Linked DNA regions of Homo sapiens. The protein of the gene in region 1 purifies or fractionates together with the protein of each later gene. This does not show direct contact. Each region holds a gene or a part of one and is shown in the gene's direction. Other genes may lie near its edges.

Evidence for each region. Proteins that work in one complex are often made in the same cells at the same time.
Region 2: the proteins of PCDHGB1 (region 1) and ITFG1 purify together in Homo sapiens (co-immunoprecipitation; 3 studies listed by BioGRID and IntAct, with this or other methods). This does not show direct contact.

Annotation. Positions count from the first base shown.
Region 1 is NC_000005.10:141,356,396-141,360,238, forward strand, and holds part of PCDHGB1 (protocadherin gamma-B1 isoform 1 precursor), read left to right. Parts: coding exon of another isoform or gene 1-1,268; exon of another isoform or gene 1,269-1,338; intron 1,339-3,598; exon of another isoform or gene 3,599-3,740; coding exon of another isoform or gene 3,741-3,843. Other genes in the region: PCDHGA4 (protocadherin gamma-A4 isoform 1 precursor), read left to right, coding at 1-1,226; PCDHGB2 (protocadherin gamma-B2 isoform 1 precursor), read left to right, coding at 3,741-3,843. UniProt on the Homo sapiens protein: Potential calcium-dependent cell-adhesion protein. May be involved in the establishment and maintenance of specific neuronal connections in the brain.
Region 2 is NC_000016.10:47,458,964-47,462,563, reverse strand, and holds the start of ITFG1 (T-cell immunomodulatory protein isoform 1 precursor), read left to right. Parts: upstream 1-1,500; 5' UTR 1,501-1,518; coding exon 1,519-1,726; intron 1,727-3,388; coding exon 3,389-3,461; intron 3,462-3,600. Other genes in the region: PHKB (phosphorylase b kinase regulatory subunit beta), read right to left, coding at 1,138-1,213. UniProt on the Homo sapiens protein: Modulator of T-cell function. Has a protective effect in graft versus host disease model.

The DNA of each region.
Region 1 (3,843 bases):
GAAATTATTATCGGTTGTTGACACACAGAACACTGGACAGGGAAGAAGTCTCAGAATATAACATCACTGTAACTGCCACTGACCAGGGAACTCCTCCACTGTCTACAGAAACTCATATTTCACTGCAAGTGATGGACATCAATGACAACCCACCCACTTTCCCTCATGCTTCCTACTCTGCTTACATTCCTGAAAACAACCCCAGAGGAGCCTCCATCTTATCTATGACTGCTCAAGACCCTGACAGTGGTGACAATGCCCGAATCACTTACTCCCTGGCCGAAGACACCTTCCAGGGTGCACCTCTGTCCTCCTATGTCTCCATCAACTCCAATACAGGGATCCTATATGCTCTTTGCTCCTTCGACTATGAGCAGTTTAGAGACCTGCAGCTGCTGATGACAGCCAGTGACAGTGGAGACCCTCCACTCAGCAGCAATGTGTCACTGAGCCTCTTTGTGCTGGACCAGAACGACAATGTCCCTGAGATCCTGTACCCCACCTTCCCTACTGATGGCTCCACTGGTGTGGAGCTGGCACCCCGCTCCGCAGATTCCGGCTACCTGGTGACCAAAGTGGTGGCAGTGGACAGAGACTCAGGTCAGAATGCCTGGCTGTCCTACAGCCTACTCAAGTCCAGCGAGCCGGGACTATTTGCAGTGGGGCTGCACACAGGCGAGGTGCGCACCGCACGGGCCCTGCTGGACAGAGACGCGCTCAAGCAGAGGCTTGTAGTGGTCGTCCAGGACCATGGCCAGCCCCCTCTCTCGGCCACCGTCACACTCACTGTGGCTGTGGCCGACAGCATCCCAGATGTCCTGGCTGACTTGGGCAGCCTCAAGCCTTCAGCAGACCCAGACGACTCGGGCCTCACACTCTATCTCGTGGTGGCAGTGGCCGCTGTCTCCTGCGTCTTCCTGGCTTTTGTCACGGTGCTGCTAGCACTCAAGCTGAGACGCTGGCACAAGTCACGCCTGCTTCACGCTGAAGGCAGCAGGTTGGCAGGTGTGCCTGCCTCGCACTTTGTGGGCGTGGACGGGGTTCGGGCTTTCCTGCAGACCTATTCCCACGAGGTCTCCCTCACCGCGGACTCGCGGAAGAGTCACCTGATCTTCTCCCAACCCAGCTATGCAGACACGCTCATCAGCCGGGAGAGTTGTGAGAAAAGCGAGCCTCTTCTGATAACTCAGGATTTACTTGAAACAAAAGGAGACCCTAATCTTCAGGTGAGTCAATCTTATAATAGATCATACCACACTGAAATATAGACAAAGAGTTGTGTAAATGTCTCTCATTTTATATGTAATATATCAAATAAAGTTGCCTCTTTTAATATTTTATTGCTTTAAAGAAAACTGGTGGATGACCTTCCAATAATGATCAACAGTATTTACCACACAAAAATGTTGTTTATTACTTATCCTTTTTGGTCTTCATTCAGTTGTAGTTTCAGCCAGAATTTTCTAATTTTACAACTCTGAGCCACCTCATTTCCTTAAATTTCCTTTTCTGTGCTGGGTGTGGTGGCTCACACCTGTAATCCTAACACTTTGGGAGTGTGAGGAGGACGGATTGCCTGAGCTCAGGAGTTCGAGACCAGTCTGGGCAACATGGTGAAACCCAGTCTCTACTAAAATACAAAAAGTTAGCTAGGCGTGGTGGTGTGTGCCCGTAGTCCCAGCTACCCTGGAGGCTGAGGCATGAGAATTGCTTGAACCTGGGAGGCAGAGGTTGCAATGAGCTGAGATCATGACACTGTACTCCAGCCTGGGCAACAGAGCAAGCCTCTGTCTCCAAAAAGTAAAATAAAATAAAGTAAAATAAAGAATAAATTTCCTTTTCTCTTAGGTGTTCCTGAAAAGATACAAGAGACCTGTAAAATAGAAGGCAATTGTGTAAATTCACATTTACAATATTCTTTCTCATGAAGCTATTGTTGGATCTGGACTGAGGGTTTTTTAATTTCCTATTTTCACACTCTACCATGCTTTGCTTGAAGTTTACTTTTCCTTCCTTGAAAGGGTATTTTCCATTATAACAGGCAACGTCAATTTAAGAATACTGGCAATTTGTGAGTTTAACTTTTAGATATAACTTTAACAGGATATTTTCTCAATGAACTGGTATATTTCAAATATTTTCTTGTTGCTGTTCTGAGATGCACCAGAAGTGACTATGTGTGATTCCTCTGGTGCACTCCTGTGATTATGAGAAATATTTCCAAGCTAATTTCAGTCATATATAAGTAGATTCTAGGAGTAACTTTAATAATTTTTAAATTGCTTATCATGACATCACTATTGAGACTTTCTTGATTTCCAAGGAAAATATAAGTTTTTGGAGTCTTTTCTCTTGTCATCATGTGAGCCTCTTTCAAAGGTTGAGTTACTTGGGTTCTGGACTGATATGATTTACGCTGCTTAGTAAGGTGGCCTCATCCCTATTGCTACAAATTGCTTTCAGATATTTCTGTCATCATGTGGCTCTGGGATTATTTTATATGAGGGAAAATATTTTGTGTGTAGGGGATATACAACACTTTTGTTCTTTGTGCTTTCATTTAGGTTCTGTGAGAATTCAAAATTCATGAATGCATATGCTTACACAAATTAGTGTAATTTGATAACTGGAAGTTGTAGTGATAGACTGTGGAATATGCCTCAATTTGACTTACAAAGGAGAGTTTTAGTTTCTACATGGTTTTGTATTCATAGAAAGTTGTGGTGCAATACATAGAGTAAGCTGGAATATGATATGATGCAGTTACCTGGCTTGGGGAGCAGAAAGCAGAAATAACAAGTGAATGTTGAGAGACAACTTACATCTGAGGAGAGATTGTTTAAAGTAATTAAGCCATAAAATATAATTTGGAAATGCTCAATTGGTCTGAAACTGTGTCAAGCATATTCAGGTGTTGGCATTAGGAATATATTCCAGAATGAGAGTGCCACATGTTTTAAAGGCCTAGGAAAGCAGTAGATAATTTATAACCTAAAATCAAATTTTTTAAAAAATGTGTTTTTGTTAGAATGGGCAGTGGGTTTCTTTTAGCAAATAACAATTTTGATTAAACAAATTGTTGTATATTCATATTACGGACTACTAGATAACTATATTATGGGCCACTAGATAACTATAAGAAATAAATAGGAAAGCTCTCTATGTACTGATATGATCTTTAAGATATAACAACTAAAAAAGCAATGTGCAGAATATGGTATGTTGTATGCTTACATTTGTGTAAAGAAGGAGACAGAATATTTATAAAAATCCGTTGCCCTATACAAGACATATCTCCGGAAGGATACCTAAGAAACTTTAACACTCATTTCCCCTGTGAAAGCATTTCTCCTCATCTAAAGCAGAGATGAAAGGAAGAACCTATGCTGAATGCATCTTTTGAATTTGGAACTATATGAATATTTCACATATTTTAAAACAAATGAAGACTTTATAAATTAAAAAAGAAAAGAAAAGAAAAAAGTTCTTAGCAAATATTGACAAGCCATTAGTGCAGTTTCCTGAGAAAACCTCTGAGCGTCGCTGTTGGTCAAAAGAACGAAGAGAAGCGTTTGGGAGCCTCTTAGAGGGGAACTTCCTGCACAAACCAACCACACAGAGAAGGCCAGTATAGATTCGGAAACAGAAAACAAAAGCAGGAAAAGTGACCTTAGCCCGGATTCTGCCATCCCCGGAAGGCTTATTCCTCCTATGGGCAAAGGAGCAAAGGGAGCCAGAAGATGAAAGCGAGCTCAGGGAGGTGCGGGCTGGTGCGGTGGCTGCAGGTACTGTTGCCCTTCCTGTTGTCTTTGTTCCCCGGGGCTCTCCCAGTCCAGATCCGCT
Region 2 (3,600 bases), on another chromosome or scaffold:
CTCCCAGGTTCAAGCAATTCTTCTGCCTCAGACTCCCGAGTAGCTGGGGTTACAGGCGCCCGCCACCACGCCCAGGTAATTTTTGTATTTTTAGTAGAGATGGGGTTTTACCAGGTTGGCCAGGCTGGTCTCGAACTCCTGACCTCAGGTGATCCGCCCGCCTCGGCCTCCCAAAGTGCTGGGATTACAGGCGTGAGCCACCGCGCCCGTCCGAAAATAATTTCTTAATATCAATGCAAGTGCAAAGTTAATTTTCCTAGCTAACACCTTTCACACCCACCCCCAATAATGACACTTCATCAATTCTTTAAAAGGGAAGCTCCTTAGCTGAAAACCTGCATTCCGCCTTTCACCTTTCCTGTTTAAGTGCATGCCTTTTGTTCAAGATTATATCCAGCCAACCAGGAATACAGGAAGTTTTAATAACGCCACAAGTCATGACGTTGCAATTTGAACAAGTCAGTTCGGGACACTTGGAACTGTTAAAACTGCCTGCAAGGCACCTTCTGACCTCTATGCTTTCGGGTTTGGAAACCACACAACCTGGGGCCACTTAAGAAGCCCTTTTCTTTCTGGGCCCTAACTATACTCTTCAATATCTGAGGCCCAGTCTCCTTCAGTTTCTGCTAGATAGATGACAGGTCTACTGCTTAGAACCTGTGGGGAATGTAAAAGGGATATAAGACATAAAGCAAGGAGCCCAGACGCCGGCTTTCTGCAGCCAGATCGTAGTTACATCTGACTTGGTCTGATTAAGCTATCTGACTTTTGCAGAGAACATTCACAGGAAAGACACATTCACAGGGAAGACACATTCCCTTTCCCAGGAATGTGCCGCCGCCCGATTTTTAAGTTAGAAGACTCTAAGGGAAGTCCGGACCGCTGCCTACTTTCCGAGTGGGGCTCACAAGCGGAATAGAGTCGGGGGCACACGCAGAGTGGAGCTGGCTCTGCCACCTAATTTTTAGAGGTGGAGGAAGATATTAGAAACAAGGCCAGGGCCGCCACCTGCTTTCTAAGGAGGAACTCGGGGCACAGGTTCATTCCCAGGGCCCCCACCTGCCTCCCGCCAAGGCGCTTGAGGCGAAGCACCACCCAAGGTACTCGGGTGGGGGGCGGCGCCCCAGCCAGCCAAACCTGAGCGCTTGGTCCGAGCTCTTCGCTCCAAGACCTTCCAGCTCACTTCTGCCGTGAGTCCCGCCGCCCCCGCCATCGCGCTCCGGTCGCCGCCTTGGCCACCGCCCCCGGGGCCGCCTGTCAGCAATGCCGGGCCACGCCCCCCGCACGACACTGTCGGGAGGCGCGCCTGCCGGAAGTGAGCGTGAGGGCGGCTTTCACCCTAGCTCCACTGCTTTTTTAGCGTCGGAAGGGCAGCCCTAGTGGGAGAGAGAAAAAGGAGCCGGCAGCGGCTCTTACGCGTCCCGGGGCTGCGCGCCACTCTCTCGGCCGGTAACGCGGTGCTTTGCGGCTGTCGTCAAGCGCGGCGTTGGGCCGGCGGGCGGGGGCTGAGGGGCTGCCATGGCGGCGGCGGGCCGGCTCCCGAGCTCCTGGGCCCTCTTCTCGCCGCTCCTCGCAGGGCTTGCACTACTGGGAGTCGGGCCGGTCCCAGCGCGGGCGCTGCACAACGTCACGGCCGAGCTCTTTGGGGCCGAGGCCTGGGGCACCCTTGCGGCTTTCGGGGACCTCAACTCCGACAAGCAGACGGATCTCTTCGTGCTGCGGGAAAGTCAGTGCTTGCCGGGCCCTCCCTCTGTTCGCTGTCCGTGTGCCTCTCCCGGTGTTCCCCAAACCCATTGCCCAATGGCCGGTCCTTCTGCATTTCCTGGTCCTTCTCTCCCAGCCCTGTGGCCTTCCCTTTAGCATTCTTAACAGCTTGTCCTTTTGCACCACCCTTTCCAACCCCAGGTTCTGACCCAGCTACCCTACAGTTTGACCTACCCTCAAAAGCCCTGACAGCACCTCAGTTTTGTTCCTAAGAAGTCTGCGGCCCTCACCCAGTCACCTTACCCCCTCCTCCCCATGGAATCACCTGTTTTCCAAAGTGCTTCCTGATTCCTAGGAATCTTTGTAGCTTGCCTCAACGTTCGCTCCCAAGGCCCACTCATTCCTTTCTATTTTGCTTCAGTCTTCCTTCCCCGTTGATGAACATGAAAAGGTGCAACCTGACAATCTCTTCTCATAGGGGGCTTCTTCTTGCCTCCCCACCTACCTAATTCGCCCACCCCTTTCTTTGTCAAGGCCACAACTTTCTATGAAGCGAATGTACCCTTCCAAGGGCCTAAACACTAAACAGCTCACACAAGCATTTTGCAGGGACCACTGATAAACCCAATGCCTCCTTGGGAAAGCAGTCTCAAACTACAGAAATTTCTCTCTTGAGCTGCCTGTTCTTTCGTGTACTCCTTCCTCATCTTGGTCATCACCTTAGTGTTCCAAATGTCTACTTTCTTTGCTAACTTGTTCTTGGAAATTCTTTGCTTTGACAATCGTTAAACTAACTTTTTTGTAAATCTTGATGCTGACAGTGGGCATTAGGGGGTCTTAGGGTTCTTGAGTACCTACAGAAGCAGGTGCTGCTTAAAGATCAATGCTGTGAAGGAAGGAAGGAAGAGCTACTCAGAGCTTGCCTGACAGGATCCTGAACCAGACTTCTTGGAGCCCTTGCGGGGATGCAGGAACCTCTTACAAACCCTGAATATTTTCCCAATCTTTTTGACTCCTCATTTTGCAGTGTACTGCCAAACCTGTTGCTGCTGTGTCCAAACTGGATACAGAGAGTAGCCTTGACTTTAAAGATGGCCTGTGTTTGATTAAACAATTCCAAAAGTCTGTCTCAATGAGTGCTAATTGAGCTCCAAGAATGTGTCACCCTCTGGAGGATGGCCCCATAGGAGGAGGGTCTTGGAGGATTCAGCATTTTGTGCTCACATGCTTAATTATGTCTTTGTCAGATATCTACAATGGGAGTCCCTGCATCCTTGGTGTGATGCATCTGTGTAATGAACCAAACAGCCTTACAAGGGACAGCATTGCTAGATTCGGGGAAGACAAGTCTTGACATGTAGTATAGTTATAAGGCATCTTTATATGGTTCTTTTAAGTCAACCAATCTGACTCCTCGCAGAATCCACTGGCTTCAGTTTCTCTTGATCAGCTGCTTTTTCCCATGTTCATCCTTTCTATTTCTCTGCTACTTTGAACATTGAACTTGTGATATAATGTTAGGCATCTCCATTGGACTAGTGGGACTATGCTTGAGAGGGCAGATGAACTGGAGTAGAATAAAAGTTTTCTTGTTGAGAACAGTGCCCAGAAACCTTCTTGTAACCACTGATTAGATATCTTATCAACAAACATTTTTCTAATATCATATATTTGTTTTCTTTAGGAAATGACTTAATCGTCTTTTTGGCAGACCAGAATGCACCCTATTTTAAACCCAAAGTAAAGGTATCTTTCAAGTAAGTACAAATATGATTATTTTGATAAAACTTTAGTCATTAATATAATAATGGATATGCAGTAGCTGATTGGTTGTCTTTAAAGTCAGCCTTAGTGTTGGGATGCAAAACCACTGTTTGTGAGGTATGAGTAGCAAGT